Homo sapiens: one gene and its partners. The protein of the gene in region 1 interacts with the protein of each later gene in a biochemical or structural test. Each region holds a gene or a part of one and is shown in the gene's direction. Other genes may lie near its edges. The genes, in order: PTPN11, ALK, FRS2, NEDD9, CEACAM1, STAT5B and STAT5A.

Region 1 (4,040 bases):
GAGTGCAGTGGCGCGATCTCGGCTTTCAGCAGCCTCGACCTTCCAGGCTCAAGCAATCCTCTCACCTCAGCCTCCCGAGTAGCTGGGACTACAGGCGCGCGCCACCACGCCCGGCTAATTTTTGTATTTTTTGTAGAGATGGGATTTCACTATTTTGCCCGGGCTGGTTCCCAACTCCTGGACTCAAGCGATTCGCCCGCCTCAGCCTCCCAAAGGGAAGTGCTGGGATTTCAGGCGTGTGCCACCGCTCCCACCCCAAAGTAGTATTTATTGTAATTATTATTATTATTTTGAGACGGAGTCTCGCTCTATTGCCAGGCTGGAGTGCAGTGGCGCGATCTCGGCTCAATGCAACCTCTGCCTCCCGGGTTCAAGCGATTCTCCTGCTTCAGACTCCCAAGCAGCTGGGACTACAGGCGCCCCCCACCACGCCAGGCTAATTCTTGAATTTTTAGTGGAGACGGGGTTTCACCATGTTGGCCAGGATGGTCTCGATCTCTTGACCTCGTGATCCGCCCACCTCGGCCTCCCAAAGTGCTGGGATTACAGGCGTGAGCCACCGCGCCCAGCCTATTATTATTTTTTTAGGCAGTGTCTTGCCCTGTCGCTCAGGGTGTAGTGCAGTGGCGTGATCACGACTCACTGCAGCCCCGACTTCTCGGGCTTAAGTTATCTTCCCGCCGCAGCCTCCACGCCCGGTTAGTTTTTTGCATTTTTTGTAGAGATGAGGTCTTGCTTTTTTGCCCAGGCTGGCCTCGAACTCCTTGGCTTAAGCGAACCTCTTGCCGCAGCCTCCCAAAGTGTTGGGATTACGGGCGTGAACCACCGCGCCCAGCCTACTATCTTTATCTTACAGAAAGAAAAGAATGGAGGAAACCGAGGCTCGGAGACAGTAGGTAATTTCCCCAAGGTTCCACAGCTAATGAGTGGAGCGGCGATTTGTGGAACGAAATGAATGAAATCGATGTGGCAGCGGGCCCGGACGGGTCGGTGGCGTAGACGCGGAGCGCGCAGCTCACACCTGGCGGCCGCGGTTTCCAGGAGGAAGCAAGGATGCTTTGGACACTGTGCGTGGCGCCTCCGCGGAGCCCCCGCGCTGCCATTCCCGGCCGTCGCTCGGTCCTCCGCTGACGGGAAGCAGGAAGTGGCGGCGGGCGTCGCGAGCGGTGACATCACGGGGGCGACGGCGGCGAAGGGCGGGGGCGGAGGAGGAGCGAGCCGGGCCGGGGGGCAGCTGCACAGTCTCCGGGATCCCCAGGCCTGGAGGGGGGTCTGTGCGCGGCCGGCTGGCTCTGCCCCGCGTCCGGTCCCGAGCGGGCCTCCCTCGGGCCAGCCCGATGTGACCGAGCCCAGCGGAGCCTGAGCAAGGAGCGGGTCCGTCGCGGAGCCGGAGGGCGGGAGGAACATGACATCGCGGAGGTGAGGAGCCCCGAGGGGCCCGGCGCGGGCCTCGGCCCGGCCACCGCCGCGTTCGGTTAGCCCCGTCCGGAAGGGGGCGCCCCGGCCGGGCTTCGGGCTCCCGCCCCGGGTCGGGGTTGGGGGCCGGTTCCCTCCTCGTCCCCTCGCCCTCCAGGGGCCGGGGGCCGGCCCCACCGCGCCCCCACCCCTCGGGTCCCCATTCATTTCCTGCCTCCCCGAGTTCCGGCTGCGGCAGCCCCGGGGATGCCCGTCAGGCCCGGGGCAGGTAGAGCCGCCGAGGGAACCACGGGTGCCAGCGGCCAGGCTCAGCGCCGCATTCCTGACCCATTGCCTCATGAGAATTGCCTCATGGTGATTCCGAAATAACCCTGCTCACTTGGGGAGGCTCCTTGGGACACGAGAGGGGAGTTGCGCGGGGCCGGGCCCCCAGTGGTCTAGTCGTTCTGGCTCACTGTGCCACTTTCGTGCATTTGGGGACTTCACGCAGGACCCCTGACCCTTTTATATGCCTCTTTGTGTCTTCTTTTCCTCCTACCCCTCACGTGCCAGAAATGGAAAAACTGACTGTATCTGCAGCCACTAGAAGTATTTCCTTCCTCTGCGATCTTCGCTTTGGGAGATGGAAAGGAAGGGAGCCGCATCTCGTTATTTAATCCTTCACTGCAACCTTAACAGTCAGGTCACTTTACTGGTACCCGTTTTATGGATGAGGAAACCGAGGCCCAGAAGCAACATGCTAGTAAATGACAAGATTTGAAACTTAGGAGGATTAGTGAGTTAATGAGATCCTTTGAAAGGTCAGGGTAATACTACTACTAATAGCTAACATTTGCTTAGTTCTGACCACAGCCCTATCAGATGGCTACTATTATCCCCATTGTAAAGATGAGTAAACCGAGTTTCAGAGGTTAAGTAAATTGCCTAACCTCACAGCTAGTAGGTGGTGGAGACAGAATCCCTACTTTTAATCACTATGTTGCTTCTATTATTTTGTAACTATTGCTAACCATTTGTAAGCCTTAATTTTGTTGTCAAACAGTAGTGTGACCTGTTGTTTTCAGATAGTGATCCTGCTATTTTGTATAGTCACTCTATATACCACTCACACTTAAGACCCATTGTCTATTCTTTTCCATGATTGTTCAATTATGGTCACTGTCTCAGACATTTAAAAAACGATTCAAGCTATTGAGGCTATTTGAATGAGATTTTCTTTTCTTTTTTTCTTTTTTTTTTTGGAGACGGAGGCTCACTCTGTTGCCCAGGCTGGAGTGCAGTGGCGCAATCTCGGCTCACCACAATCTCCGCCTCCTAGGTTCAAGCGATTCTCCTGCCTCAGCCTCCCAAGTAACTAGGACTACAGGCGCACCACTATGCCCGGCTAATTTTTGTATTTTTAGTAGAGACAGGGTTTCACTATGTTGGCCAGGCTGGTCTCAAACTCCTGACCTCGTGATCCGCCCGCCTTGGCCTCCCAAAGTGCTGGAATTACAGGCGTGAGCCACCGTACCCAGCCTGAATGAGATTTTTCAAAATATTAGGAATGTCTCCTCCAAACACACCTGGCATGTTATTCATACATGGATCTGGAATTTAAAAAGGGGAGAAAAAGAAAACTGAGAACTCGTAGGAAGTGAGTGACTTGGACAGGTCGGTTGGCAAGTGCTTACAGATCTGGGTAATATATAACTGCATTTCAACAGAACAGTGTATAGCCTCAAATGTTCTAATTCTTTAGGGAGCTTTTAAATAAACAGTTGTCTATTCTTTAATCTGTCAAATAGTCATTGAGCCTTTTGTTCCTGGTGTCTGCTCTTCCAGACAAGTAAGGATCTGCTGCTTTAGGAGACATCAGACGGGGCTGGGGGTTGGGAAAAGGTCTGGGTAGTAATAGACCCTACATTGTCCAGTTTGTTCATTTAGAAGCATAGAAGTGTGGGCATAGTCAAAGTAGCAAGTGGTAAAGATGACAGTTTGAAATGGAGTAATTCCTTCTCCCCTCCAGCCCTGGTATTATGCACCACCCAAAAAGCCGGGTTATGAACATAATACACATAATTTTGAATGATTCATTATTTTTTGGATTATAAGCCTGTTTTATTTGTTAACCAGCCTTAATGAGGTATAAATGACATGCAATTAATTGCATATATTTAAATGTACAATTTGATCAGTTTTGACATACATATACACTTGGGAAACCACCACCATAGTCAAGATAATGAACACATCTATCACCCCTGGTAATTTTGCCTTATGTTCTTTATAATCCTTCCTTTGTTCTTAGGCAGCCACTATTCTGCTTTCTGTCACTATGTATTAGTTTGCATTTCCTAGAATTTTATTTTTAAAAATTTTAAAATTGTTTGAATAGAGATGGGGTCTCACTGTGTTGCCCAGGGCAGTCTCAAACTCCTGGGTTCAAGTGATCCTCTCACCTTGGCCTCCTGAAGTGTTGGGATTATAGGCATGAGACACCCTGCCCAGCCCTAGAATTTTATTATTATTGTTATTATTGTGTTTTTTTGAGATAGGGTCTCACTTTGTTGCCCAGGCTGGAGTGCAGTGGTGCAATCACTGCAGCCTTGTTTTCCTAGGCTCAATCCATCCCCCCTCCTCAG
Region 2 (3,500 bases), on another chromosome or scaffold:
TTCCCTATCTCTTCCCGCAGGTGGTGGAGGTGGCTGGAATGATAACACTTCCTTGCTCTGGGCCGGAAAATCTTTGCAGGAGGGTGCCACCGGAGGACATTCCTGCCCCCAGGCCATGAAGAAGTGGGGGTGGGAGACAAGAGGGGGTTTCGGAGGGGGTGGAGGGGGGTGCTCCTCAGGTGGAGGAGGCGGAGGATATATAGGTAAAGATGATTCGTGTTCAAGGTGTCACTCCCTCCCTGCTTAGTCCTAGGCTCCTCACCTCCCTGCCCTGCCCTCCCCTGCCCTCCCCTGGCCTGCCCAAGTGTGGACTGTGATGTGACTGCACGCCTCCCTCTCGACCTGCCTGGACCAGCCAGAGGCAGGGTGCTGGCTTTCGAGCCAGCACCCTGCCTCCAGGCTTCCTCAGCGACAGCATCAAGATCCCATGTGATTCTTGATGTCCCCCAAAGTCGATGATAAAGAGGCTTTGGCTTGCCAGACTAGTCTCTGAGTCACCCATAAGGACTCCCCCAGCCTCCCTTGGATGGCCTGGCCAAGCCAGCTCCTGAAGGGGCTGGTTTGTGGTTTCATGGACTCCTTACTCCTGCTCCCTACCTCAGCCCACCAGCTTCCTGAAAGGCGCCGCTGTGCCTGCTGATGGGAGCTATTCCCGAGGGCAACTGCAGGCAGGCTTAGCCCAGCCCTTCAGCAAGCAGCTGCCCATTGACCCCAGCTGCCTCGTCTGGGCTTCAGAGCACAGTCAGCAGAGCCTTCTGAAGCTGAGAGGCTGGGAGACGATGGCTCCCCGCTCCCCACAGATTAGGACGAATGCATGCATGCTCTGTGGTGTTCGTGTCTGTGTTTTGCATTGACGCTGTGTGTAAGATGCTTGTGTTAACCACATGCTCTTCTTTTCCAAGCTGGGTGGGTGGGAGGAGCCCGAGGGGGGAGCCCAAAGATAGCCCAGCCCCAGATGAAAGGAGGGACGGGAGCCTCAGGGCACAGGGGCTCATTTCCCGCAATCCGCACAGCCCGCCACACCCCAACCCTGACCCAATGGGGCTGAAGAGCAACTCTTCAGTGCTACCATCCTGACCAGTCCTGGGAGAGGCACCATGGGCATATCCCAGCCTGGAAAGACTAGAACTTTTTGGACTCTTGCTCACATTAACCACTTCTTAGTGGGCCACCGGCAGAGTGGGAGCTGGCCTGGACCTGAGGGGAAATTAGCCACACACCCAGCATCTACTGAGCCAAATCCCACATGCAGCCTCTGTGCCCTGAGCCTCCCTTCCCTCCCCGCATCCCTGCCCCTGAGGTCCCCAGTGACCCCCTAACTTTGGCCAGAGCTGCATGCCCCACTGACGTGTGTGTGTGTTAAGATTTTGGCACCCACCCCCCATGTTAAACTCTGCTCTGGTTTGCTACTCAGGCGGCAATGCAGCCTCAAACAATGACCCCGAAATGGATGGGGAAGATGGGGTTTCCTTCATCAGTCCACTGGGCATCCTGTACACCCCAGCTTTAAAAGGTAGCTTCTCTGCCAGGCAGCAGAACAAACTTGCTTAGGTCAGTCCTCCCACCAAGCTAAAACCTCAGAGTCTCTGACCTGTATCCAGGATACAGAGGCACAATTATGGGTCCCTGGCAGGCAAGCTTCCTATGGCGCAGGTCACCACATTTTCCAGAAGTCAGGATGTGTGCTTTAATATGAATGCAGAGGCAGAATCCTAGGAAATGTAACAGTAATAGCCCAATACCTGCACCAGCCAACCTAAAGATCATGTGCGTGGGCTTCTCTCCACCACTGACTCAAAAGCAAACATCCATAGACACCCATGCCCGCTGCCTCCGCTGCACTCTCTATATGCACAGGAAGACTCTTCTACACAGTTGTGCTTCCAGTGGCTATGGGACCTAGGAACAGGGACCACCAGAGCACCCACAGTGACCACCTGGAGACATAGTACTGAGGCTGGGAGTGGGGAGGCAGGCTCGGCCCAAGACTGACCCTCCCTCCTTGTCACTAGTGATGGAAGGCCACGGGGAAGTGAATATTAAGCATTATCTAAACTGCAGTCACTGTGAGGTAGACGAATGTCACATGGACCCTGAAAGCCACAAGGTCATCTGCTTCTGTGACCACGGGACGGTGCTGGCTGAGGATGGCGTCTCCTGCATTGGTAAGGGGGCAGGGCCAGGGGAGGCAGAGGGGCCCATAGCCTGAGATTTGGCCCATGACCACAAATGGTTTCTGGGTTCCAGAACACCCTGGATTCGGTTTTGTAAACTTTCTGTCCCTCCCCTACCTGCCACAGCTCGAGTGCTCTGACCACTGTGTGAAAGGTGGGTCATGGCTCCTGAAGGAGTCTTAAAAATCCTCTACTATAGAATAAGCCCTCTACCACCCCCACCAAGGGGCCATCCTGCCTCCACTTAAACATGCCCAGTGACAGGGATCTTACTGCTCCTAAGGTTCTCTGTTCCCTTGGGCAGTTTCAGAGCTGGGGACCTGTTGCCTTAACCTTCCTCTCCTAGGTTTCCTTACAGCAGCAGCTGTGCATGTGCAGTGTTTGAAGACAGTGCTCCCATTCTCCTCCTCTTTTTTTTTTTTTTTTTTTTTTTTGAGGCGGAGTTTCACTGTTGTTGCCCAGGCTGGAATGCAATGGTGTGGTCTCGGCTCACTGCAACCTCCGCTTCCCAGGTTCAAACAATTCTTCTGCCTCAGCCTCCTGAGTAGCTGGGACTACAGGCGCCCACCACCATGCCAGGCTAATTTTCATATTTTCAGTAGAGACAGGGTTTCACCTTTTGGCCAGGCTGGTCTCAAACTCCTGACCTCAGGTGATTCACCCGCCTCGGCCTCCCAAAGTGCTGGGATTACAGGTGTGAGCCACCGCACCTGGCCCCATCCTCCTCCTTTAACTCTTCTTCAGACTAAATAACCCATTTGTTTGCAGCAGTTCATACAAGATGCAGTTTTGTGTCTCTTCCCCCGCCCCACCAGTGTCCCTCTTCTGCATGTGTTCCACTATCGATGTCCCTTTTGAAATGTAGTGTCCAGTACCAAGCACGATACCTCCGTGTGGTCTGGCCAGCAGAGGGCACAGGACCCCTCCCCACTGTGAGCCCAGTGCCTCAGGGCCACAAGGAAGTAACTTAGCCTCAGAGGGTGTTACTTACAGCGCACCCTGTTGTTTGGTCACCTGCGGCCCCCACATCTCTTCCAGATCCACTTTCGTTTCACCTTCCATCCTCACCCCATAGTTGTGCAGCTCATGTTTCAAACCAACATCCCGCCACTGATATTCATCCCTGTTAAATTTCCCTTCACCCAAAAGCTACTGCTAAAAGCCTGTCAAATCGGGATGAGTCTGGTCCTGCTCATGGTCCCCTGAAAAGAAAAGTGTGACAAGGTCTCCAGCGATGGGAAGGAGCAAGTAGTTTTTGTCTCAGTGGGGGAGGTTATTTCTGACTTGGGACCAACTCAAAGGAGACCTGGTGTGGTTGTCAATACC
Region 3 (3,500 bases), about 43 Mb from region 1:
CTGATCGGATCTATCATACTGAAGAGTTTATACTGTTAAACTGAAGATAGTGGAGAGCCACTGAATAATTTTCAACAAGCTTCAATCAAATTTATGTTTGTAATGTTTTGTAGCTTCTGTGCTTCCTTCCCTCCTCCTTTTTCATATATTGTCATATTCTATCTGATTATTTCCCTTGTTTGTAAGTGATGCTTTGGAGTTTTCTTTGTCTGCTCAGTTGGAGTGTTCTTAAACACTCAATGTCAGGTATATAACCACTTACCTCTAACCTTCTATGGGAAAGGAGTATTAAATAGACATGCTATATCAGTTTTGCCAGTATTCTGTGTGTTACTTTACTGCTTAATTTTGAGTTGTCTTTCTCTCTTACCAATGCGCTATTCGAAATTTGATTTTGTTTTAATTACCAATGAACTCTTGTCTTGTGGAGACATAAAAGATACTACAATGAGTAACAACAGTCAAAATACCTGCCAAGCCAGAAGTTCACCATCCCTTTGGTGATTTTTTATTTAAAGAACAAGCCAGGTCTGGTAGTCCTGTAGTCCCAGCTACTCAGGAGGCTGAGGCAGGAGGATCACTTGAGCCCAGGAGTTTGAGCCCAGCCTTGGGCAACATAATGTCTGCCTGCCTGCCTGCCTGCCTGCCTGTCTCTGTGTCTCTGGCTGTCTCTCTCTCTCTCTCTCTGTCTCTCTCTCTCTGTCCCTCTCTGTCTCTCTCTCTCTCTTTAAAGAAGGACATGAAATTCCTGATAAGCCACAAAGGGTTAATTTCATTATTAACTCTTGAACAAAAATTAATTATTTAGGTAATATTATATATGAGACCTTAAGTTGGTTTTTTTTTTAGATGATTTTAGAATAGGTGACCTTTGCAAATTTAACTAGAAATTTGAGATTTGTTTGACATTATTAATGCCTCACAAAATTTATTCTCATTATTACTGAGTAAAATCAACTAGCTAGTTGTATAAAATCTAGCTGCAGCCATATACCTTGTTGGACTTAATTTTCTGCATCAGAATAATGTTTGTGTTAGATGATTTCTAAAGTCTTTTTCTGTTTACAGTTTTTGTATCCTTCATCTAATAAATTTTTCCAAATTATTTTTCATGTAGTGCACACATGGTCTTCTGAAGAAGCCATGGGTAGCTGTTGTAGCTGTCCAGATAAAGACACTGTCCCAGATAACCATCGGAACAAGTTTAAGGTCAGTAAAACTGGTTGAGTTATATATCTTACTGCCTAGTTGGGTGTTCTTCTTTTATTTCACTTAACATATCTTATTTCTGGCTTTTATCACCAAACCTTTCTATTTCCCTTTCTTTCCACCCTGTCTTTCTTGATTTAATAAATGATGACAACATTTTCTTACAGTATGGAATTTTTTTTAGTTTTCCTTCGGTCCTCTGTATCTAATTAGCCATACCGTTCTGGTAATACTGTTTTTAAAATGCCATTTTACGGGGTGCCTTTTCAATCTCATCACTATCTGTCTTTCAGTTATTATTTTCATGTGTGCCTGTGTGATTTCTTAACTGGACTCTACCTCAAGTCACCCTCTGATTCATCCTGTAGTCACCATCAAATTAATCTTCTTCTCTCATCATTCACTAACCTCTTTGCTAAAATTGTGTGGTGTTATTTTACCTGTAGGCTAAATGCTGCTATAGCTGTTTTGTGTCTGATAATTTGACCTCGATCTGTTACAAAGAATAGCCTTGATCACACAAACCTAGGTGTAAGTCTGTCACTTTATAAGCTTTGTGACCTTGGGCAGGTTACGTTATTACTGAGTCTTAATTCCATTTTTGTACAGTGTAGTCTAGGATTGTTATGAGGGTTAAATACATGTAAAGCTCTTTTCCTACTCCCAGGGGAATAGTAACTTCTCCCTAAATGTTACCTACTGCTCTTAGTCTTTGGATGTTTTCTGAAGCTCAGCAGTACAAAGCCTTTCCTCATATGAACTCTGTGCCAATCTATTTTGGTGTCTTTGAAAGGTACTTTTTTTGTTCTGCTTTAACATTGTGTCTTTATGATGTCCCTTTATCTCCTGACCCACTAGATTTCCCCTCTGATTTTATTTTCTGCGTAAATTTATTTATACTAGCGGTCCAGCTAAAGGCCCTCCTCCTCTTAAATGAAGGTGTCTCAACAACCTTAGACCACACTTCCTGCCTTCTGCAGCCTCTGTTGCATTCCTTTGTCAATTAATCATACACTTTTGTGGTATTGACTTTGTGTTTCTACATTTTGTTTCCCCAGTGGGAATGTAAATTTCTTACAGATCTGAACTGGGTGTTACACGGCTACGTAGTCCATGCCTGATACACACATTGGTTGATGAATGAACTAACAAATTACAAATAACTAATTAGCAACAATGCATTTTCCTGACGAATTGGTGACATATTTGCATGACTGTCACCTTCTTTTTTTAGGTCATTAATGTGGATGATGATGGGAATGAGTTAGGTTCTGGCATAATGGAACTTACAGACACAGAACTGATTTTATACACCCGCAAACGTGACTCAGTAAAATGGCACTACCTCTGCCTGCGACGCTATGGCTATGACTCGAATCTCTTTTCTTTTGAAAGTGGTCGAAGGTGTCAAACTGGACAAGGTAGAACCTTTGTTTTTTTTCCCAAATATTGTATTTGAAATTGTTTTTTCAGCTATTCTGTATACAAAGATTAAATTAATATTTTTCTTCTGAAAAAAATCCCAAAATAAACAGATTGTTAAGGAAAGATATAGTATACTGTGTATTAATTTATCAACTGTTTATTAAGCACATTGTCTATGTGAGAAATTTTGGCTCATGTCAACTTTAAGATTTTTCAGTAAATGATTGGGTCAGCTAAATTGACTAAGTGTCTTTATCATTGATTTTTTTACTACCTACTACTTGAATGGCCTTGACAAGTTACAGGACTTCCATTGAATGTTAAATTTCTTCTCTATAAAAGGGAAATGGTAATACCTATCTTTTAATTATTGTAATAATTAAACAAGATAACAATTGGAAAACACCTAGGGACTTTCCAAGGGGCCTGTTACATGGCAAATGATCACCTTGGAATAGTGAGTTGGGCTCCCCCTGCTGTTAAGAAACAGACTAGCGTAAGTGCGCAGGTCTTGATTTCATTAGCTTTATTTTGGGCCATCTCCCTTAGATGAATGAAAATTATTCTGTGAACTTTTGGCGGGGGTTTGTTTTGAAACAGAGAATAATCATTAATTTATCAGATATTTATTTAAAAGGGATTTCTGACTCGGTGCGTAGAATGCTTACTTTACAATTCTGCTGTTTGTCAAGTGTTCCTATAGTTTTTTTTAAAGGTATGTTAACTATTTTTCCCTTTTGGTTTATATTTGTAGGAATCTTTGCCTTTAAGTGTGCCCGTGCAGAAGAATTATTTAACATGTTGCAAGAGATTATGCAAAATAATAGTATAAATGTGGTGGAAGAGCCAGTTGTAGAAAGAAATAA
Region 4 (3,500 bases), on another chromosome or scaffold:
CAGGGCTTAGGGAAAAAGACTATGACTTCCCCCCTCCCATGAGACAAGCTGGAAGGCCGGACCTCAGACCGGAGGGGGTTTATGACATTCCTCCAACCTGCACCAAGCCAGCAGGGAAGGACCTTCATGTAAAATACAACTGTGACATTCCAGGAGCTGCAGAACCGGTGGCTCGAAGGCACCAGAGCCTGTCCCCGAATCACCCACCCCCGCAACTCGGACAGTCAGTGGGCTCTCAGAACGACGCATATGATGTCCCCCGAGGCGTTCAGTTTCTTGAGCCACCAGCAGAAACCAGTGAGAAAGCAAACCCCCAGGAAAGGGATGGTGTTTATGATGTCCCTCTGCATAACCCGCCAGATGCTAAAGGCTCTCGGGACTTGGTGGATGGGATCAACCGATTGTCTTTCTCCAGTACAGGCAGCACCCGGAGTAACATGTCCACGTCTTCCACCTCCTCCAAGGAGTCCTCACTGTCAGCCTCCCCAGCTCAGGACAAAAGGCTCTTCCTGGATCCAGACACAGCTATTGAGAGACTTCAGCGGCTCCAGCAGGCCCTTGAGATGGGTGTCTCCAGCCTAATGGCACTGGTCACTACCGACTGGCGGTGTTACGGATATATGGAAAGACACATCAATGAAATACGCACAGCAGTGGACAAGGTGGAGCTGTTCCTGAAGGAGTACCTCCACTTTGTCAAGGGAGCTGTTGCAAATGCTGCCTGCCTCCCGGAACTCATCCTCCACAACAAGATGAAGCGGGAGCTGCAACGAGTTGAAGACTCCCACCAGATCCTGAGTCAAACCAGCCATGACTTAAATGAGTGCAGCTGGTCCCTGAATATCTTGGCCATCAACAAGCCCCAGAACAAGTGTGACGATCTGGACCGGTTTGTGATGGTGGCAAAGACGGTGCCCGATGACGCCAAGCAGCTCACCACAACCATCAACACCAACGCAGAGGCCCTCTTCAGACCCGGCCCTGGCAGCTTGCATCTGAAGAATGGGCCGGAGAGCATCATGAACTCAACGGAGTACCCACACGGTGGCTCCCAGGGACAGCTGCTGCATCCTGGTGACCACAAGGCCCAGGCCCACAACAAGGCACTGCCCCCAGGCCTGAGCAAGGAGCAGGCCCCTGACTGTAGCAGCAGTGATGGTTCTGAGAGGAGCTGGATGGATGACTACGATTACGTCCACCTACAGGTAAAACAGCGGAACTCATAAAACACCTACACTCACTCACATGCAGGGAGCCTGAGAAAGATGCCTATAAGGATGTCGGGTTGGACTGCCAAAGGAGAGAACATAATTAATGTTAATCTACATGGTTCACAAATTGGAGGGAGTGTCGTAGAGTAGTAAGAACGCTGGGCTGAGAGTCCTGAGTACTCACTCAGATCTAGCCCTTTCTCTGACGTTTACTGTGTGACCAACTTATTCAACCTCCTTGGGCCTTAATTTCCTCATTTGCAAAATGAATGGGGTAAGGGGTTGGATTAGATCCCGTTGATATACCTCAGGTAAGAGGAGACTCACCAAGTAGGATAATAGGCCCTCTAATAATAATACCAGCTCCACTTCTATTTGTGTTTTATGTATAGTTCCATGCAATATTTTATTTGAAAAAAAAGTTTTCGTCATTAAGAAAAAGAATAGAAGACCTTTGCACCAGAGAATTTCTAAGGCCCCTGCTAGCCCTACTCTGTGTATGTGTGTGTATAATTGCTTTAAAACTTAGCCCCATCTCAGACTTACCTAGAGGACCACTGGGCATTAGCTAGCTGTCCTAGGAGCTTAATCTGTGTATGGGACATTGGATAGTCACAGTTGGCCTCCTACAATTGGGAATTCTACCAAGCTCCAAGTTGACCTGGGATTCCGACAGCTTTCCCTTCCACTTTGAGGGATTAAAACATTCTACTGGCTGGGCGCAGTGGCTCACGCCTGTAATCCCAGCACTTTGGGAGGCTGAAGCAGGTGGATCACAAGGTCAGGAGTTCAAGACCAGCCTGGCCAATATGGTGAAACCCCATCTCTACTAAAAGTACGAAAATTAGCCAGGCATGGTGATGCACGCCTGTAGTCCCAGCTACTTGGGAGGCCGAGGCAGAAGAATCACTTGAACCTGGGAGGCGGAGGTTGCAGTGAGCTAAGATCGTGCCACTGGACTCCAGCCTGGGCGACAGAGCGAGACTCTGTCTCAGAAAAAAAAAAAAAAATCTACCAAGATCCATTGTTTAGGACTAGGCTTACTATCTTATTCTGCCATTCTTTTAATTTGACTGAGAGTCACAGATTATACTGAGAACTACGTAACTATTATGCCAAATTCCCTCAAGCGCAAGAAAGTGTGGCAAGGAGAACTGAGCCCCACCTGATGCTGAGGAAGGAAGTGGAGAGAGAGAGGATGGAGGCATTGAACATTCATCTTACTGGTTGTCTGACCCTGCACAGTGGGAACTACTGCCTTGGAGCAGAAATCTATAGATGATTTGAGGGAACTAGAAGTGAGAGGTGGACCACATTTAGACCTGCATTTGGGGGTTTACAGGTTCACATATAATCTATGAGAAAAGAACCCAGAGACTATAAAAAGAACATTATATATGAGATTTGAAGGGAATCATGAGTAGCTCTCCGAAAATTTTAAGGTGCCCCAGAAAGCTGGCACCCTATATGGCAATGGGCTTTATTTTTCTGCCACCCCTGTCGTCTAGGGTTCACAGTGCCTCACTGGGCATTTGAGATGTTGCCAAGGCAGTGGAAAATAAAGAGTATTTACTCATCCGTCAATGAAATTGTTAGCATAAGTGAATCACAGTGATGACATAATATGTTCTTTATGTTGAAAATTAACAGGGTAAGGAGGAGTTTGAGAGGCAACAGAAAGAGCTATTGGAAAAAGAGAATATCATGAAACAGAACAAGATGCAGCTGGAACATCATCAGGTAAGTTCAATCAGAGCAAAAACTGCTTGGCATTGGAAAGATTTCCCACCTAGCACTAAGGAAAGGTATCACTTCAAGAGATTATGATTTTGATTCTTCCAGCTCACTGGCAGGAATCAGCTCCAAAGCACGGAATGGGGTTTAAAAGCAAAGAGAAGGTTTATGACCTTGTTAGTTCAACTGGGTGTACCTGGGTTCCATCTAAACGGCAATTTTTTTAAAGGCTAAACCTGCATATCTAACATATGAGGACTATTTGGGTTAAGGCATTTGGTCTCAAGAAACAAGACCCATTCAAGCTAGCCTAAGCAAGCAGGTTTATAGTAAAGCCACAGTAGGGGAATTCAGTAACAGAAAGTGAAGATAGAGCCAGGTCTGGGGAGAACTAGAACTGTAAATTATCTCTCCTTCTTGTAGTTCCTTTGCTTCTTTCTATCAGTCTACTTCACTCTCACCTATTTTCTGGTTTTCTCTAATTATCTACTCATTTGGCTCCCCTGTAACTTTGCAGAACCCATAAATGGCCACTCAGAACTTCTATAGATGGCT
Region 5 (4,051 bases), on another chromosome or scaffold:
GACAGATGGCTCCTTCTAAGGCAGCCCATCCCCCTGGTGGACAGTTCTCTCCAATCTTGACAGAAGTCCTCTGGACAACTCACGTCCTCTCCCTGGGCTCATCCTGCACCGCATGGAGCTGGGCAGCCTGGGGACCCGCAGTGAACAGGACCTGGGGTGACTTGACCTTGAAGCCTGGAGGTCAGAGCCCACATCTGCCCAGGGGTCAGGGCCAGCTCACATCATGTAGACCCTGGTCAGCATCCCTGGGGCAGCCCTTGACAAGGCTGCAGGCCTTGTCTTGCCCTCCAGGGGGAGACATTGCACACAGACAACACTCAGGAAACATTCCCCTGGTCATGAACCTGGCTTTGCTAAGGAGGTGAAGGTAGAGCCCACTTTCCATCCCTTGCTCCAAAACACCCTTCCAGGCCCTCCCATGTACCTGCTCTGTCCCTTCCTGGGTCCTCTGAGGACCCTGTTCTGTGAGGGGTCCCTGTGCAGCTCCCCATTCCCTCCTGGCACCACCTGTGGGGAAGGTGCGGTGACCACAGGACAATCAGCCTCGCAGAGGACAGAGACCACCCAGGATGGTCAGGGAGAACATGGACAGGCCTTGAGCCTCAGCTCAAGGGAGGGAGGGTCCCCCTGAAGTCTTCCCCAAGGACAGTAGAGCCCAGAGCCACCCACCTCCCTCTATCACAGTCCTCTCTTCCCAGGACACACAGGACACCTCCCCCTCCATATCCGGGAGCTGCAGCTCCACCTGAGACCCCTGGACTTGGGTCTCTGTCCCTGGGTTAGAGGCCAGGCTGGTGACACTAGAGACAGAGGGCTGGTCCCTCCCCAGTCATCCCCCAGTGAGCCCCTTTCCATCCCCCAGAGCCACCTCTGTCACCTTCCTGCTGGGTGTCTTCCTACCTTCCCAGCACACTGAAGAGCATGGGGAGACCTGGCAGCTCACTGTGTTGCAAAGAAAATAATTACCACATTTGGATATGCCAGGGTTCTCTGTGTGCTGCTGACAGACCCATAGCCAGGACACAATAGAGGTCAGTGCTGGAGAGGGGGGATCCTCCTCCCCTGATGGGGACAGAGGTCTCATCAGCCTTGATTCTCAAAGTGTGGTCTGGGAAACCAAAATGTAGACAGAAAGGAAAGAGAAAGTAAGGACAAAGGTAGGAATGAGAGGAGAGGAAACAGAGCTTCCTGGACAAACCCCGCCCCAGCACACATGATCAGACAAAGCTCTGGGCCCCAGGGAGGAGGCTCAGCACAGAGAGTGGAAAACAGCAGAGGTGACAGAGCAGCCGTGCTCGAAGCGTTCCTGGAGCCCAAGCTCTCCTCCACAGGTGAAGACAGGGCCAGCAGGAGACACCATGGGGCACCTCTCAGCCCCACTTCACAGAGTGCGTGTACCCTGGCAGGGGCTTCTGCTCACAGGTGAGGGGAGGACACCCTGGGAAGGGGCGGAAAGAGGGCGCACAGAGAATGGCTAGGGTCCTCTGGGGAGGATGGAGCTCTAAGAGGGGACAGAGGGCTTCTCTTGGAGCCAAATAGGAGAGAGGACATGAAAGGGATAGAGATCATAAAAGGAAAGTCTCAGTGATCTGAAACTGTTAGTGAATAAACAATCTCCCATTTTTTACCTTTTCCAACTGAATCATCAATGAGCAATAAATTTCAAAAACTGCTGACAATAATCACAATTTAAGTCAGCGTGACAATTAAGGAAAACATTTTAAAAGGGGCATTAAACAGAGCCCTGAGCCACCAACCTCAGATATTGGCAAATAAACCCCAGGACATGAAGAGCCCTGGGAATGCTCACTAACTCATCCACAGGAGTCTGCAGCCTATCCCAGGCACTGGGGTGCAACCAACATCACACAAATCCCTGCCCTCACGGAGCTCACGCTCTCATGGGTGGGGAAGACAGACAAGCAAAGAGATCTAGAATGTGAGGTCAGGTGTTGACAAGAGCCCTGGAGGGAACAGAGCAGAAAAAGGTCAGAAAGGGAATACCCAGGGTCTCTAGGGGAGGTGTCAGGGAAAGGATCTCCCAAGAGCACCCTGATGTGATCAAGATCTGAGGGCAGTGGGGAGGGAGCCATGCGGATCCCTGGGGAAGGGCATTCCAGAGAAATGACAAGGTCAGAGGCACTAAGGGAATGGGAGTCACACTGCTGACCTTGACCCAGTAGGACACACACACACACACACACACACACACACACACACACACACACTCCAAGGTGGAGGGGTGAAGACACCTGCTCAGGACCCAAGGCCCCATTTTTCTACCCTAATGCATAGGTCCCAATATTGACTGATGCTCTCTCCTCTCTCCTAGCCTCACTTCTAACCTTCTGGAACCCGCCCACCACTGCCCAGCTCACTACTGAATCCATGCCATTCAATGTTGCAGAGGGGAAGGAGGTTCTTCTCCTTGTCCACAATCTGCCCCAGCAACTTTTTGGCTACAGCTGGTACAAAGGGGAAAGAGTGGATGGCAACCGTCAAATTGTAGGATATGCAATAGGAACTCAACAAGCTACCCCAGGGCCCGCAAACAGCGGTCGAGAGACAATATACCCCAATGCATCCCTGCTGATCCAGAACGTCACCCAGAATGACACAGGATTCTACACCCTACAAGTCATAAAGTCAGATCTTGTGAATGAAGAAGCAACTGGACAGTTCCATGTATACCGTGAGTATTTCCCCATGACCTCTGGGTGTTGGGGGGTTAGTTCTACTTCCCACACATGGGATTGTCAGGCCTGGGCTGTGCCTGTGTCCTCCTCTGCATTATACCCCATGTTAAGGTTTGAGCATCTAGTGCAGGACACACTATGGGACAGACATCAAAATACCGAATGTCTTACTCTGGAGTCCTGATCCTGCAGACATTTGCTTCAGAGGAAGGACAATCTGATGTGGGTAACTTATCGAGGGGAGACCAGTCTCAATCTAGCCCCCCGGGACCCTCCTGGTGAACATGTCCCTAAGAAAGACCCAGTAGGACTCAGTCAGGGTCTGGCCTGAAGGGCCTTCTGGGATCCTCACAGACAAGCTCAGCCCTGGGAATCCCCTGCTCCAAAACACTATCCCAAGGTTCTCAACTCCTGGTGACCCTGAGGAGCCTGGGCCAGGGCTAGATTGTGGCCTCCTGGGCAGGGCTGACTAGGAACAAGAATTTGAGCTATCCGAGGGCTGTGGCTCCTGGAGCTGGTAACCAGCCAGGGTTCAGGCACTAGAGCCTCATTTGGGCAAGGATGGAGCCTCATCCTTCACCTTAGTCTCAGCCTGGAGAGGACAGATGGACAAGCTCCCCAGGCCATCAGCCAACTGCCCTGGGGGCTTAGGAGATGCCATAGGAAGTTTACCATCCCCAGGAGGAGGAACAGAGGAGACAGGATGCTCCTGAAAGCTCCTTGTCCACCAGGGATCAGGCTGAGAGGCACTCTCAGGGAATCCAACAACAATAGATGCTGCGGCCGGGAGCGGTGGCTCACGCCTGTAATCCCAGTACTTTGGGAGGCCGAGGTGGATGGACTATGAGGTCAGGAGTTCAAGACCAGCCTGACCAACATGGTGAAATGCCGTCTCTACTAAAAATACAAAAAAATTAGCCGGGCATGGTGGTGCGTGCCTGTAATCCCAGCTACTCAGGAGGCTGAGGCAGGAGAATTGCTTGAACCTGGGAGGCAGAGGTTGCAGTGAGCCAAGATCACACCACTGCACCCTAGCCTGGGTGACAGAGCGAGACTCCATCTCAAAAAAATAAAATAAAATAAGATTGTTTATTTGGGCAGCTCCCCTATGCAGAGCTGAGGTCAAATAATTATAAATATTTTAAGGTTAATTCACAGACCACAAGATAAGCCAAAACCATTAACCATTTATACTATTTCACTGAGGGGAAACTGAGCCACATGGCAATAAATACAGTCACTATATCAAGGTCACACAGACCGTAACTGGAAGATCAGTTACAGGAGATTTGTCTTCAGCCACAGTCTTAACCTCTCCTCTACTCCAGGGGCCTTATTTGGCATCTGTGGACCCC
Region 6 (4,003 bases), on another chromosome or scaffold:
CCTACTCTGTGCAAAGCACTGTGCCAGGTGTTGGCCCAGAGTATGGGACTGCAGCAGTGGCCTGGGTAGCGGAGAAGGGTTTTTTGACCAGCTGGAGACCTTTGTGGCTGGTGTCATTCTGGAGGTGAAGAGAAGGCCGCTGGAAAGAGCTGCCCAGGGAGGACTATGGGAGAACTTGCAGCTCTGGGCCATCTCTGGACATGAACGTTTTGCATACACACAGGGGAGCTCTGTGTGTCTGAGTGGGGGCGGGAGGGGTCCTTCTCTCTCTTTTGGCCCCTGCAGCTTGGCTTCTGGAGCTTTCCTATGTCTTGCTTTAGTGCTAGCCCTTGGAGGGTTGCCAGGGAAACCGCTGGCCAGCTCCGGGAGATAGACGTAGCAGAGGAAAGGAGAGTGGGTGACTCAGCCTGGCTTCCCACAACCGCAACCCCCTCCTCAGCACGTGGAAAGGATCTGGGGGACCCCCTTCCCCTGGATCCTACAGATGACCCTGTTTATTCTTTCTTCTCTAGAGAGAGCAGTCCCTCCCGCAGCTCTGACTGGTGGGAGCCAGCCAGATTTTCCCAGGAAGGGAACCGGCCCCAGGCGCCCCGTCCCCCGTAGGTTCACCCTGGAACTCGGACAGGTGAATTCGGCCTGGGCGAATGTGAATTCCTGCCGTGCCCATGCAGGCGGCAGGAGCCCTGGCTGAGACGCCCTCCCGGGGGCAAACCCAGGATAATTATTGATCGGGGCCCCTGTGGACTTCTGACCTCGGCCTCGGCGGGAGAGGACCCGGAACGCGGGCCTGGGCTCCCAGGGAGAGAGGTGGGCGGGCCGCGGAGGGGGCCAACCAAAACGACCACGACAGTGCGCCCTAGCCCTGCTAGTGGTGGTCGACCCAACCCAAACAAAGCAGCATGTGCTTGCGGTGCGGCGTCGGCTAGGGAGCCGAGCCGGGAAGACACCCCACCGCCGCAGAAAGGGGGTGCGCGCGGCGCCGGCACCGGCACCGCCGAGCGCGCCGCCACCTCGGGTGTGCCGAGGGGGTCCGGGTCCTTCAAGGGCGGTCGCGGAGGGGGCGCGAGGGACAGCGGGCTAGCGAGCGCGCGCCGGGCGGAACCAGGAAGCGGGGCGCGCTCCGGGTTGCCAGCGGCGCGCGTCCCTGGGCCTCCGCGCGTGAGCGGCGCGCGCGCCCCCGCGGGCCCCGGCGGGAGGAGAGTCGGCGGCCGGAGCCGTCACCCCGGGCGGGGACCCAGCGCAGGCAACTCCGCGCGGCGGCCCGGCCGAGGGAGGGAGCGAGCGGGCGGGCGGGCAAGCCAGACAGCTGGGCCGGAGCAGCCGCGGGCGCCCGAGGGGCCGAGCGAGGTAGGAGCTGCGGGGCGAGCCCTGGGCCCGGGGCCGGGGGAGCCAGGCCGGGGAGCCAGCCCGGGCGGGGCCCGCGCTCCAGCCGCTCAGCCGCCCGTCAGGGCCGCGCCGCCGCCATCACTCCCGGGCCGCGGTGGTTGCGCGCTGGGCGAGGGGCGCGCGCGGGGAGAGGGGGTCCGGGTTGGCTGCCGGGGAGGCTGAGGGCAATGCGGGGTGCGCGAGGGGGACTTGCGAACGCCGCGGCGCCGCGGGGGGCGTGCGCTTTAAAGGCTGCGTGCGCGTGTGCTGAGTGGGTGTGTGGGGACCCCGCGCCGACCCCATAGGAGCTCAGGGGGCTGCTGTCAGCCGCCTCACACCTTCACGTTGCAATTCCGAATATCCCCAGCCGTCTTCCTTGCTTTAACTTCTTTCTTTCAAAAGAGGTTCCCGGGACTCCGGGGATGGGATGAGCCTGCGGGGGTGCCTGGTGCGGTGGGGGGTATTAGCAAAGCTTCAAGAAACAGGGCCTTATAAGGAATCAAGACAACAAATACGAACGTTTCGATAAGACTCTGGGGGGCGGGATCCCACATCAGGACCCGCCAGGCCTGGGCTCGTGCGTGTGGCCGTGGGATGCAGTGTGCTTTTTCTTTCTAGTCAGGGATAAAGGGTTAAAAGTGCTCCTGGTGTCGGGGGGTAGATATGGAGAGTCGGAAGGGGAGTTGTATCACAAAAGCTGGTCTGAGGCTAAAGGAATCTGGCAAGATGGTCGGGGTGAACAAAGAGGAAAGAACTCACACGGAGCAAGAGGCGGTTGCAAACACTTGTAGCCAGCAGTGATGGAAAAGCCAAAGAAGAAAACCAAGTGTCAGCTTTTAGAAAGACGGGATTAATGAAAAGCACAAGAATTTTAAAGACTAAAAGAGATACCGATTCTCTCTTTGCCAAAGAGCCAGAGTCAGTTCTTTTCTTCTTGGTCCCTGTGATCCCGCCATACCTCGTATCAAATAAATAGTGCCAAAAGTGGGTCAAAGAATGTTAGAGCTGGAAAGGAACCCAGCGATGATGCCATTCTTTTATTGTACAAATGAGGAAACTGAGGCCCAGATAGGTGGAGTAAGTGGCCTGCTCAGGTGACACGGCTGTTTGTTGAGTATCCAGGGATTGAAACTTCAAGGACTCTGAGATTCGTGCTCTTCCCAAAGCATCGTGCAGTATACAGATCTTTGCCTAGATACAATTCCATACATTTTCTCTGCAGTGTCCTCAGGGAATGCCCTTTGAAAGGGCCAGCGTGACACTGAATATCATACTTGGGCTTATGTCATTTTTTTCAGTCTTCAAGTGGTGTTTATGGTCTGCTTGGATCTTAGGTTTCCAAAGCTGTTGGATAGCCGCCTGGGCCATAATAAGCTTTCAGCTGTTGGGTCTACATTATTTCAAATAATTTTGTTATCTTTCAATTAAGGTAATAGAACTGTGCCTCTCTCCCCAACATTCTATTGTTGTCCATTTGCTTATGTTATATTGCGTTATGTTCATTGCCTGTGAGTTCCTAGGTGAGGATGTATTTTATTGAGTGTGCCTTTCATGTTTTAAAATTTCATTTTGTAACACTGTAAATATTGGAGTGGTTCTGATCACTTCAAATGGGGAGAATCTTATTGATTGATTTTATTTTAAGGCTTTGGGTTGTTTTGTTTATTCATTTGGGTACCAGTTTCCATCTCATGGAAGATCACAGTTGTTAGAATGGACATGGCTAAATAAGAGAAGGGGCTGCTGATTTTAAGAAAAACTTCCTATGTGACAATTTGTGGTATCTGTTACGTTTAATTCAAACAAGTCCACACCTTGGGTCAGGTAAGCGCGTTATCTAGGAGATGACTTGTTTGCTACTGTAGCCTCTGGAAGATGAAATTTCAAGCTCCAGATTGAGACACAGGGAAGGAATGGAGAGGTTTTTTTTTTTTTTTTTTTTTTTTTTGTAAAGCAAACCATCAGAAAAAAAAAGTTGATTTCTATCACCAGTAGTTTGGTTATTGCATAACTTGAAGCTAAACTCTGCACAAAATAATCTTTGCTATATACCCAACTAGGTAAACTATCCCACCTTCTCATCAGTTCTCACCTTTTCGGTGCTTGTATTTTTTGCCCACGGGATATTAATATGGATTGTGTTCAGAAATTTAAGGTGTGTACTTCATAGTATGTATGATTGTAGGAGAAAAATGTGCTATCATCGTTTGGAGTGTTACAACATAAATATTTTGGTCAACACTTCCTATCCTGCTCTGACTTTTCATCTCATCTCCATTTTCTTCCTCTCTTGATTGTTTTTATGTCATTTACATATGTAAAAGCCACATCAAGACTAAAGTTGCCATTTATTACTTTTTGATACTTAAGTCGAGTTTTTTCAAATCATAGTATTGTTAGTATTCAAATTGTCTGTAATTTTTGTTAGGCTTATATATTATGAATCCATTTGTTGTGGTTTATTTGGCTTGTTGTTATGTAGGTAGGTGACACAGGTAGTCTTATTGTAAAAGGAAGACGTTATAGATAGGTAAATAACATGCTCAAGATTAGATGCAGGTTACAGGTGGAATCGAAGGAAGCCTAACTATTTTCGTGCCCTACAAAAATGTCTGTATCTCATAAAGTTATTCACAGA
Region 7 (3,500 bases), on another chromosome or scaffold:
TACAAAAAGTTTTAAAATTAGCTGGGCATGGTGGTGCACGCACTTGTAGTCCCAGCTACTCGGGAAGCTGAGGTGGTAGGATCATTTGAGCCTAGGAATTTGATACTACAGTGAGGTATGATTGTGCCATGGCACTCTACCCTGGGCAACAGGGTGAGACCCTGTCTCCAAAAAAATCACACAAAGTATGGTGTTGTAGCTGTGTTCTAGAACCTGTGCTACGCACTGAGGACAAAACTGTGATCCCAACAGAACTGGGCTGTCTTCTCGCCCAGCCCCTTGAGCAGCAGAGCAGGCAGCAGATGCTGGGAAATGCCTGATGGTGTAGCCATGTGGCAGGGGGATGTGTAGGGCACCGAGAAAGGGGGTCTTCTTGCAGGATTAAAGAAATGACAGTCTTAGGCTCCTGGTGGAATTGGAGGTAGCTAGTGATAGGGAGGGAAGTAGCAGAGAGGGAGGACTTTCAGGCAGAGCCCATGTGCCACATCCTGAGGGAAGAGTACAGAGACATTATGTGTAGCAGAGAGTGGAGAAGTAGTGTCCAGTGTCAGGGCAGGCCACCCACAGCGTATGCAGGGGATGAATAAATGAGTGAATGAGTGATGTGGAAGACATGGCCCCATCCCTTGTCATCCAATTAAAAATGTTTACTGAGGCTGGGCGAGGTGGCTCACGCCTGTAATCCCAGCACTTTGGGAGGTAGAGGCAGGCAGATCACTTGAGGCCAGGAGTTCGAGACCAGCCTGGCCACCATGGTGAAACCCTGTCTCTACTAAAAATACAAAAATTAGCCAGGCTTGGTAACGTACACCTGTAGCTCCAGCTACTTGGACCTCTAGTCCTAACTACCAACTACTCTGAGGCAAGAAAATCACTTGAACCCGGAGGTGGACGTGGCAGTGAGCCAAGATTGTGCCACTGCACTCCAGCCTATGACAGAGCAAGACTCTGTTTAAAAAAAAAAAAAAGGCCAGGCACAGTGGCTCACGCCTGTAATTCCAGCACTTTGGGAGGCCCAAGCGGGCGGATCATGAGGTCAGGAGTTCGAGACCAGCCTGGCCAACATGGTGAAACCCCGTCTCTACTAAAAATACAAAAATTAGCTGGGCATGGTGGTGGAAGCCTGTAATCCCAGCTACTCAGGAGGCTGAGGCAGGAGAATTCCTCAAACCCAGGAGGTGGAGGTTGCAGTGAGCCGAGACTGTGCCATTGCACTCCAGCCTGGGCAACAAAAGCAAGACTCTGTTTCAAAAAAAAAAGTTTACTGATTTCCTACCATGTGATCTGGGGTGAAGATGAAGACAAATGACCTTCTCACTGCCTTTGAGCTTGCATTGCAGCTGGGGAGACTGATGATAATACACTTTAAAAGATCAGGCAGGGCCAACCAGTGATAGACACTGGAAAAGAAGTTAAGACAGAGCAATCTAGGCTGGGCACAGTGGCTCACGCCTGTAATCCCAGCACTTTGAGAGGCTGAGGTGGAAGGATCGTTTGAGATCAGGAGTTCGAAACCAGCCTGAGTAACATGGCAAAATCCAATCTCTACTAAAAATACAAAAATTAGCCAGGTATGGTTGTGTGCGCCTGTAGTCCCAGCTACTTGGGAGGCTAAGGCAGTGGAATCACTTGAACCTGGGAGGTGGAGGTTGTGGTGAGCTGAGATTGCACCATCGCACTCCAGCCTGGGCAAAAAGAGCAAAGCTCTGTCTCAAAAAAAAAAAGAAAAAAGAGCAATCTGCTAGCGTTGGAGATGTGTTTAAGGCGGGGGTGAGGAAAGGTCAGCTTGGTAAGCTTCTCCAGATAAGTGGTCCAGGAAGGCCTTTCTGGGGAGCTATCTGGGCTGAGACCTGAAGGAGGAGAAGGCTAAGAGTGTTTGGGGTGACAGGAAGAGCAAGGGCCAATGTCCAAGCCTGGCATGTTCAGCAGACAGCCAGGGCCAACGGGGCTTGCATGTCCTGAGTGAGGGGAGAGGAATTCAGTGAGGCCAGGGGGGTGGGTAGGTGTTGACCATAGGGATCCTCAGAGACTGTGGTTGTGATTTTTATCTTAAGTGCATTAGAAGCTATTGGAAGTCCCCAAAGCCCTCACATCAATCTTGGTATCGAGGAATTTCTAATGATAGATCCAGACCTCACCACTGGAGACCTTGCCTTGGGTGCTGGGCACCAGGTTGATGGAGAAGTCAGTAACCCAGAAAGACGCCAAGAAACACTCTTAGGGGATACGGGGCAGGGGCTGCTGGCAGGGCTGACCTGAGCGAAGACCCCAGCCCGAGGTGTGGACAGGACCATGCTCCTGGCCTGGGGCCCATGTGGAGCTGGGACCCCCCTCTCCTTTGCAGCGAGTGCAGTGGTGAGATCCTGAACAACTGCTGCGTGATGGAGTACCACCAAGCCACGGGCACCCTCAGTGCCCACTTCAGGAACATGGTGAGGACGGGGCCCACCCTCGGAGGGCAGGTCTGCCCAGAGCTGAGTCCTTGTAAGCAGCCGCCATCTCCCTGTTCCCCTGTCACCTCCCACCCTGCAGTCACTGAAGAGGATCAAGCGTGCTGACCGGCGGGGTGCAGAGTCCGTGACAGAGGAGAAGTTCACAGTCCTGTTTGAGTCTCAGTTCAGTGTTGGCAGCAATGAGCTTGTGTTCCAGGTGAAGGTGAGACCCCCAGCCCTCCTGCCCCCACTGCTCCAGGTCACCCAAGAGGTGGAGGGGCCTGCCTCAGGACTCCTGGCAGCAATGCCATCGGACAGCCTGCTTTGACTCTGTGGGTCCCTGTTTGATAGGTTATAATCTGGGACTAACCCAGACAATTTAGGCAATGGGCTAAGAAGAAGTCGGTTGTAGTTTTTGTTTGTTTGCTTGTGCCTACATTTTGCTGGGAGGGGCTTGTGTTTGGAACTGTGGGTGAGGAAAGTGGGTTGGGACCAGGTGTGGTGGCTCTCACCTGTAATTCCAGCATTTTGGGAGGCAGAAGAGGGAGGACTGCTTGAGTCCAGGAGTTCAAGACTAGCCTGGGCAGCATAGTGAGAACCCGTATCTACAAAAAAAAGAAAAAAGTTGGGCATGGTGGCCTGCACCTGTAGTCCCAGCTATTCTGGAGGCTGAGGCAGGAGGATCACTTGAGCCCAGGAGGTCAAGGCTGCAGTGAGCTGTGATTGCACCACTGCCCTCCAGTCTGGGCGACCGAGCGAGACCCTGTCTCGAAGAAAATAAAGCAGATTGCGGCCATGGGTGGTGGGTCTTGCCTGTAATCCCAGCACTTTGGGAGGCCAAGGAGGGTGGATCACCTGAGGTCAGGGGTTCGAGATCAACCTGACCAACATGGAGAAACCCCGTCTCTACTAAAAATACAAAATTAGCCAGGTGTGGTGACACATGCCTGTAATCCCAGCTACTTGGGAAGCTGAGGCAGGAGAATCGCTTGAACCCGGGAGGCAGAGGTTGTGGTGAGCCGAGATTGCACCATTGCACTCCAGCCTGGGCAACAAGAGTGAAACTCC

The links.
Region 2: the proteins of PTPN11 (region 1) and ALK form a complex in vitro, tested with the Homo sapiens proteins (one study listed by BioGRID).
Region 3: the proteins of PTPN11 (region 1) and FRS2 interact in a test that uses a peptide from one of them, tested with the Homo sapiens proteins (2 studies listed by BioGRID, with this or other methods).
Region 4: of the proteins of PTPN11 (region 1) and NEDD9, one has a biochemical effect on the other in vitro, tested with the Homo sapiens proteins (one study listed by BioGRID).
Region 5: the proteins of PTPN11 (region 1) and CEACAM1 form a complex in vitro, tested with the Homo sapiens proteins (one study listed by BioGRID).
Region 6: the proteins of PTPN11 (region 1) and STAT5B form a complex in vitro, tested with the Homo sapiens proteins (one study listed by BioGRID).
Region 7: the proteins of PTPN11 (region 1) and STAT5A form a complex in vitro, tested with the Homo sapiens proteins (one study listed by BioGRID).

Annotation. Positions count from the first base shown.
Region 1 is NC_000012.12:112,417,707-112,421,746, forward strand, and holds the start of PTPN11 (tyrosine-protein phosphatase non-receptor type 11), read left to right. Parts: upstream 1-1,240; 5' UTR 1,241-1,405; coding exon 1,406-1,419; intron 1,420-4,040. UniProt on the Homo sapiens protein: Acts downstream of various receptor and cytoplasmic protein tyrosine kinases to participate in the signal transduction from the cell surface to the nucleus. Positively regulates MAPK signal transduction pathway. Dephosphorylates GAB1, ARHGAP35 and EGFR.
Region 2 is NC_000002.12:29,225,587-29,229,086, reverse strand, and holds part of ALK (ALK tyrosine kinase receptor isoform 1 precursor), read left to right. Parts: intron 1-20; coding exon 21-203; intron 204-1,414; coding exon 1,415-1,513; intron 1,514-2,012; coding exon 2,013-2,165; intron 2,166-3,500. UniProt on the Homo sapiens protein: Neuronal receptor tyrosine kinase that is essentially and transiently expressed in specific regions of the central and peripheral nervous systems and plays an important role in the genesis and differentiation of the nervous system.
Region 3 is NC_000012.12:69,567,888-69,571,387, forward strand, and holds part of FRS2 (fibroblast growth factor receptor substrate 2), read left to right. Parts: intron 1-1,117; 5' UTR 1,118-1,143; coding exon 1,144-1,209; intron 1,210-2,443; coding exon 2,444-2,630; intron 2,631-3,388; coding exon 3,389-3,500. UniProt on the Homo sapiens protein: Adapter protein that links activated FGR and NGF receptors to downstream signaling pathways.
Region 4 is NC_000006.12:11,187,669-11,191,168, reverse strand, and holds part of NEDD9 (enhancer of filamentation 1), read left to right. Parts: coding exon 1-1,205; intron 1,206-2,861; coding exon 2,862-2,951; intron 2,952-3,500. UniProt on the Homo sapiens protein: Scaffolding protein which plays a central coordinating role for tyrosine-kinase-based signaling related to cell adhesion. As a focal adhesion protein, plays a role in embryonic fibroblast migration.
Region 5 is NC_000019.10:42,525,682-42,529,732, reverse strand, and holds the start of CEACAM1 (cell adhesion molecule CEACAM1 isoform 1 precursor), read left to right. Parts: upstream 1-1,251; 5' UTR 1,252-1,358; coding exon 1,359-1,422; intron 1,423-2,332; coding exon 2,333-2,692; intron 2,693-3,863; exon of another isoform or gene 3,864-4,051.
Region 6 is NC_000017.11:42,273,592-42,277,594, reverse strand, and holds the start of STAT5B (signal transducer and activator of transcription 5B), read left to right. Parts: upstream 1-1,203; 5' UTR 1,204-1,347; intron 1,348-1,961; exon of another isoform or gene 1,962-4,003. UniProt on the Homo sapiens protein: Carries out a dual function: signal transduction and activation of transcription. Mediates cellular responses to the cytokine KITLG/SCF and other growth factors. Binds to the GAS element and activates PRL-induced transcription.
Region 7 is NC_000017.11:42,301,998-42,305,497, forward strand, and holds part of STAT5A (signal transducer and activator of transcription 5A), read left to right. Parts: intron 1-2,344; coding exon 2,345-2,432; intron 2,433-2,532; coding exon 2,533-2,655; intron 2,656-3,500. UniProt on the Homo sapiens protein: Carries out a dual function: signal transduction and activation of transcription. Mediates cellular responses to the cytokine KITLG/SCF and other growth factors. Mediates cellular responses to ERBB4.